Homo sapiens: one gene and its partner. The protein of the gene in region 2 purifies or fractionates together with the protein of the main gene of each other region. This does not show direct contact. Each region holds a gene or a part of one and is shown on either strand. Other genes may lie near its edges.

What was found.
Region 1: the proteins of ANKH (region 2) and RAP1A purify together in Homo sapiens (affinity purification with mass spectrometry; one large-scale study listed by BioGRID and IntAct). This does not show direct contact.

What each region holds. Positions count from the first base shown.
Region 1 is NC_000001.11:111,692,789-111,696,288, reverse strand, and holds part of RAP1A (ras-related protein Rap-1A precursor), read right to left. Parts: intron 949-3,500; coding exon 880-948; intron 1-879. UniProt on the Homo sapiens protein: Counteracts the mitogenic function of Ras, at least partly because it can interact with Ras GAPs and RAF in a competitive manner. Together with ITGB1BP1, regulates KRIT1 localization to microtubules and membranes.
Region 2 is NC_000005.10:14,868,979-14,872,940, forward strand, and holds the start of ANKH (mineralization regulator ANKH), read right to left. Parts: upstream 2,801-3,962; 5' UTR 2,470-2,800; coding exon 2,374-2,469; intron 1-2,373. UniProt on the Homo sapiens protein: Transports adenosine triphosphate (ATP) and possibly other nucleoside triphosphates (NTPs) from cytosol to the extracellular space. Mainly regulates their levels locally in peripheral tissues while playing a minor systemic role.

The sequences.
Region 1 (3,500 bases), on a different chromosome or scaffold from region 2:
TCAAAAGCAATCCTTTCCTATTAAAGTTTAATCTTTTTAAAAAATATTCTTGGCTACTAGCCTTTTATAACCTCCACCCCACCCAATATATTTGACATAGAAAATACTGAAAATTTTCCACAACTCTGGCTGGTCTTCTACAGAATATTTTTTGTCAAGACCAAGTACCTAATTTTTTTTCCCTTTTAAATAGACTTTATTAGAGCAGTTTTAGTTTCACAGCAAAACTGAGGGGAAGGTGCAGAGATTTCCCACATACTCCTTGCCACCACAAATGCATAGCCTCACCCCACCATCAACATCCTGCACCAGAGTGGTACATTTGTTACAACTGATGAACCCACATGAACACATCGTTATCACCAAGAGTCCACAGTTTACATTAGGATTTTCTTTTGGCATGGTACATTCTATGGGTTTTGACAAATGTATGGCATATAACCCAATTATAGTATTACACAGACTCTAATTTTTTGGTAGTCTAAAGATATCTTTAAACTTATAAAACTAAACAAAAATAAAAATGTTCAGTCACTGGATAACTTCAAGCATAAAGGTGGTCTTAATTGTTGGTAACAAAAGAGTAAGTTGAAAACACACCTACTATTTATATGCAATTTTTTCATATGTGGCAACATTCCCCACCAGGAAAATGTCCACATTAAGGAACAAGTCACTAATCAGTAACAGAACATAGAGCTCTGAATATCAAAGTAGTATTCTGTTAAGAAATGTTCTGTCTTGATGAAACTTTTAAAAACAGATGCACAATATTTGTATTATTTCTCAAAACTATTTTCAAAAAGCAAATCTACAGATCAAATTTTAACATCATAAGGAACTACTTGTAAGCATGTGTGTACAAGTTTCACATTTTACCTTTCTGTAGGAATCTTCTATCGTTGGGTCATATTTTTCAACAAAAATTCCCTGAACAAACTGAACTGTCTGGGGGAAAAAAAAAGAGAAATATTAAAAAATTAAAGGAAAACTCCTTTGAATGTTACTTAACCTACAAATTATAATGATTAATTGAAATTATGTGAAAATTCTGGGTAAACACGTAAATGTAAAGTATATTATTAATTCTTTCAATATAAGGATACATCCATAACTAAGAGTACATTTATTATGAAAGGAGGTAGTCATGTTAAAAACTGTCATCAATACTGATAATACACTGTTAATTACATTAAGTCTTAATATACAAGGATACAAATAACATATCTGAACTAATTAAAACATGAAAAATTATCAATATTTAAACTCCTATTGCCCCTTTATATATCTATAGTAACTTTTATCCCATGCCCTCTGCCCTTAATGGAGTGACAAAGGTTCTAATTTTTTTTTAAACACAGGGTCTTTGCTATGTTGCCTGGGCTGGCCTTGAACTCCTGAACTCAAGAGATCCTCCCGCCTCAGCCTCCCAGGTAGCTGGACCTCAAGCAGCATCTTGTAAATTTGTTAAAGCCTTTCTAAATTGTGGTGGAAAAGAGAAAGGGAAATTTAAACTTACTGAATGTCTATTATGTTCCAGACATTAAGCTAGTCACTTTTAATTTATAACCACATTCAAATTTCACATTTGTCCCAGAAATAGTTATTCTTCCTATTTGCCAGCTGAGATTCAAACATACATCTTCCTGATTCCAAAGCCTTACTTTTTCCATTGGAAAATATTGCCCATTCATCTTTTTCAGATATTATCAACTTTTAAAGGCATCCAAAAGCACATACTAGAAAATACGTATTTATCATTCAGTAAGTGAAAAAAGTACAGAAGACGGTTTTAAGATATTTCCTAGGTAACTTTAAAACAGGGTCTGGTACATTATTGCCTAAAAAGCAAGGGTAAGAATGTGGACTGAGGTCATCTACACTTAAATTACTCAGAGGAATATTTGATATACTATTTTAGCTTGAGCTAAAGAGATTAACTCAAATATAGTAAACAAACTTCTTTCTCCTACTAAGCTTCTATTATTCAAAGGCAACTCAAGATATAATCACACCAAAAACCTTAATCATGATTTTTATCAAGGATTTAATCACCTCATCTTCTAAGTACGACACATAATTTAAATATACAAAGCAGTCTACGCTGGATGCAGTGGCTCATGCTGTACTCCTAGCACTTTAGGAGGCCAAGGCAGGAGGATTGCTTGAGCTCAGGAATTTGAAACCAACCTGGGCAACATAGTGAGACTGTCTCTACAAAAAATTTAAAAATTTAACCAGGTGTGGTGGCATGCACCTGTAGTCCCAGCTACTTGGGTAGCTAAGGTGGGAGGATTGCTTAAGTGTAGGAGGTTGAAGATGCAGTGAGCCATGATCACGCCACTGCACTCCAGGGCAAGATGCTGATTCAAGATTTAAAAAAAAAAAAAAGGCAGTCTAATACAGCTTCCTAATATGCTTTAGGCTAGAGCAGAGAGTCTCAAAATATGGTCCAAGGCAGAGGCTCCCTAAGGTCAAACTATCTTCCTAACAATACTAAGATGTATTCTAAGAGGTACTCTTCTTCTTCTCTCATAAGTTTACAGTGGAATCTTCCAAAGGGTATAGAACATGTGCTATTGAAAGAGACTGGATACAGAAGCAGGCAAAAGAGCCCATGTGCCTTCTATAAGCCAGACATTAATAAGACTTGCAAAAATGCAAAACAATCCAACGTTTCTCATTTCTTTCTTACTAAAAGTAATGTTTGACTACTCCTCTGAATCTTATCCTCTGTCTTAATTTTCAGGGACATCTCATTCATTCATTCACATAGATTATAATTTTATTCCTCAGGTTTTTGTACTGGATCATCTCCTCTTTCCCTCTCCTGTATCCTTATTTTCCTCTCCAGTGGAGAGGAATTGCCCCCAGCATACAAATATGCTTTACTATCTCCAATTCTAAAACAAAAACAAAAACCTCCCTTAACCCCAATATCTCTCCAGCTTCTGCCCCCATTCTCTGTCCCCTCTCATAATCAAGCTTCTTCAAATGTCTATATTCCATTTCCTCAGCTCTCATTTAATCTTCAACCCACCCCATTATGGTTATGGCAACATGACCTGACTAAAGCTGCTTCCTTTATCATGTCCAACTGCCTCTATGCTCTCTGATCATCTCTTTCCTCTTTTTTACTTGACTTTTGAGGAATCAAGTAAAGACACCTTCTTCTATGCTAGATCCTCCAATCCTATCTACTTTCTAAAGGTTGAGAGGTACTCAGAGCTCAGTCCTGGGCTCTGCTCTTCTCTCTCTAGTATCTCCCTAGACCTCTTTCACTCCTATGGACTTTTTCCAAAATTATTTTTGAAAAGGTAATTCATGGACATAGGACTAAATTCAAAAAGGCACAAAAGGCTATGCAGTGATAACTAAGCTTATCTACCACCCTTGTTCCCAGCTATCCAATCCTACTCCCAAGAAAGTAACTGATGTTATTCATAGCTTATTTAACCTTGAAGAGATACTCTATGATTTTACAGGTATCTACCCTCAGC
Region 2 (3,962 bases):
GTAAATCGCTGACAAATAAGCCATCATTCACTCCCAGCAAGGTGTAATACACCTGCCCACTCAGCGGCAGTACCTACATGTGTCCATCTGTCTAGAACTCCATATAAACTCAAGGGCTGCATATTTTCAGCTAACGTAGACCCACTTTTGCAAACTGGTTCATTTCTCCTCCTCTTTACTGTGCTTCAGAAGAATTGGGGTAAAGTGTTCTTCTATTCATCACCCACACATACCAGGTCACTCTTCAGCTCCCACTGTAATTCTTTCCCTCCAGTTTAATGCTGAAAAGAGTAAGTCAGTCTCACTCTCTCTCACCCTGCAGCATTTTGCAAAAACAATTATCATCTGACACCAGAAGGCAAAGCAAGGTTTGGAAAACCTATCAATTTCTTCTCCCCATTTCTCCACCCTTAACTCTGTGATAAAATATCTCCGCCCTCCAGGCAGCCTATAACCTCATACTCTGGTGTTTTTGGGAAAAGGACCTCAAATGACACTTGTTGATAACATTTTGCTTCTCTGCAAAAACACAACTCCATTAAGTACTTTGCTTACATCAGCCATGATAATCAGGTTAGCAATGTTTTAAGGATGAGTTAGAATTATTAGACCTGCGAGGATAAACCATCTGGATAGTTGTCTCTTATGTTTAACCTCCCTTTTGTGACTTCAGGAGATTCTTTTTCTTATACTAAAATCAAACCTAGTTATGTCAGCCTTTCATTAAATCAAGGCAAAAGGGAGGCAATATTGTGGTATGCGTCAGGTGGTTTAATGATGACACAGACTACTCTTATTTCCACTAGTTATCTCGATATGATTCTTACATGCACACAAACACACACCAGTTCAGATGAGCAGCCTGGGCTTTCTGACAACCTTTGGGGCAGCTCCAAGAAGGTAAGCCTTAAAATAGGAAAGGCTCGAGTGAATATACAGCATTTGACTCATCTAAAATGGGCAATGTAGTAAATTCGTGTCTAAAAGCTTTTCTACGGATTGTAGGAAGTGTTCAAAGTCACCAGTTACTATAGAAAGAAGGGAAGGTGGGCGGGTACAGGGTGGAGCAGGGAAGAAGCCCTTGGGGTACCCTTGTGAGGCACTGGCAGGGCACAGTGGCAACGGAAGAGACAAGATTTTATCAAAGGACATTGGCTGGCGCGGTAAACAAAGGTCTCTAGAGAATATGCCATATTGTGAACACCTATCACCAACAAAATTCAAAGTAAAAAGTAGCTTACAATGTGGGCTACATATTAGAGAGCTTACAGAGTTGCAATTATTCAAAAGTTTTGAGCACAGAAAGACAAATCCAAACAGATATTCGTCAAACGAAGGAGTCACACAAATCTCCGATTTGTAACTGCCTCCTGAAAGCTGTTTTACTTTTACAATGAGTACTGCATCAAAATAGGTGCATATTCTAGATAAATATCCGTTTAAGTCTCTTGACTTAAAAGGAAAGAAGAAAGACAGTACCACAATACAGGAGTGCCGCTCGTCACACGCTCTGGCCACTTGGGACACCTGCCCATCAGGGTGGCATGTCACTGCCTCCCCATCACCAAATCCTCTCCCCGGCCTTAGAACGCAGCTGCATCCCGCTGGTGGCCCTGCCAAAACGGTCCCCACATGCAAAGTGCAGGGTGCCAATGCCCCATCGCTGGAGAGCTTGCAGCGCTAGATTTTCAATGACGCCACATGGAGAAAACGTGAAAAGAAACAAGGACGAGAAGGCGACCCCAAACAAAAATGTGCTCCCCTTCTTTAGTGGTCCATGAAAAAAAAAAAAGAAAGAAAGAAAGAAAGAAAAAAAAAGAAAAGGAAAAGGAAAAAAAAGAAATCCCAAACTAGAAATAAATGGTCAAGACCGGCTTATCAGGACACATTCGGGATACCCCTAATCCTTACCTGGACTACGAAACAAATGTTTAAAAATGGAAGTACCTGGGAAATCAACTTGGACGCATTATAAAACAGAATCTCCCCACCGTCACCATTACCACCAGCCATGGGTAAATAAAAACCCAGCACTTAAGCTACTAGAAACTACATTTTAATTAGAGCTGAGGTTTACATAATCGCAAATTACATAATACTGCCGTGCACTAAAAACCCTTCCATAGGTGAAGCTTCACACCATCCAGTCTTTTTAACATTTTCCAGAGAGGGCTGGAAAAGTCTGCTGAATAATTGAGGGGAGGGAGGGAGGGAATGGGGTGCTGGAAAAGTCACCCTTGACAAGCTGCACACCCGACCAAATGTTTCAGGATAAAGAGGGACTCGGAGCAGGTGACTCCCCTCCGCCCCCGTGTCCGGGCGTGTAAGGCCAAGGCAGGGCGAGCGGGCGTGGGGCGCGGGGCCGGGGCTTACCTGCTCCCCGAAGTCGATGGCTATGTTGGTGATGCCCAGGGGCACCAAGAACCGGATCAGGGGCCAGTAGTGCGTGAGCGCCGGGAATTTCACCATAGTCCCCGCCGTGGGCTGACCCCACACACATCTGCTGCCGCGAGGGGACTCTGCGGGGAGGCGAGGGGCGACGGGGCGACGGGGCGAGCGGGGCGCGGGCCGACAGAGGCCGCGGGCGGCGGGGCCTCGGGCGCGGCGGCGGCGGCTCCTCCTCGCGGCTGCGGCGCCTTCTCCGAGCGCGGCTGCTCTAGCAGGGGATCCGCAAGCTCAAGTCCATCCCTGCTGCCCTCCCACACAACAAAGATCTGCCGGGAAAAAAAAGAGGAGGGACGGCGGCGGCGGCGGCGGCGGCAGAAGGTTCTGCTGACAGCGGCTCCATTATAAGCGCTCTGGGGCCCGGAAATAAATAACCGCGCGCACGAGGCGCCGCCGCCGCCGCCGCCGCCCGGAGGAAATCAGGGGCGGGCGCGGAGGCGCGGACACCGCCAGCGGCCCCGGGGGCGGGCTGGGGAGGGGGCCGGGCCGGGCGCGCCGCGGCCTCCTTTCCTGTGCCGTCGCCTGCGCTTGGCGCGGCCGCGGGGGGCGCTGCGCACGCTCGGGCCGTGGGGCTGGCGCCTCCGGGGCGCTGGGCGGGACTCGCCGCGGAGCCTCGGCCGGCCCGGGGGCGGCGGCGCTGAGGGCGCGGCGGGGACGGTCTGGGGGCTTGGGGACGCCGGTGGGGGGTGAGGGCGGTGGGCCGCCTGGAGACCCCGGGGTGCCCTGGCTCGCCGGCCGGGCCCTGTAGCCCTCGTCCCGTGGGGCCGGGGGCCGGGGTTCCCGCGCTGTGCCGGGAGGGCCCGGCCGTCTGGAAGACTTGGCAGCCGGGGCAAGCGACGTGGGCTCGGACGCGCGAGGAGGGCTGGGGAGCGGGGCGCGGGGCTGGGAAGGGCGCCGTCCGGCGGTGGCCGGGCTGGCGGCGGGCGGGGACTGCGGAGGAGGCAGCTTGCGCCGGGGCTGGGGCCTGCTTCGGGGGACTAGCGGCCCGGGAGGTATGGAGGTGCCGCTCCGGGGGGGGCGAAAGAAACGTGGAAAGGTCGCCCAGGAGGGAGCCTGTCCCCCAGGGTTTCCAGGGGCAACGGTGGCCCGTGTCCCTGGAGGACATGCGCCAGGGCAGCAGGGAGTGGTCCCCGCAGGCTCCCAGGCTGGGGCCGGCCGCCTTCTGGGGCGCTCAGACCTGTCTGCTGCAGTTTGCAAACAGTACGCCCGAATTCTTTTCATTGTAAAAAATTTCTATTAAAAATAACTCGTAAAGCCTATCATCTCTTTTAAATAAAGGGGAAGAAAGAGGAAAGTGTGTTCTGTTTTGTAATACCGGGCCCCAGTGATTTCAGGGTAACTAGTCGCGGTGCTGAGAGTTTGACCTAAAGCTCGGCAGTGTGACAGCAACGCCAGCATCCCCGCACCCCAGGACTGTGACGCGAGGGAGGAGGACCCAGTGAATGAAAAGGGACTCTGGGCAGGGCTGGCTTCACGGGCGTGCGATCTGTGAAGTCACAGAGGGCCCGCACTTAAAA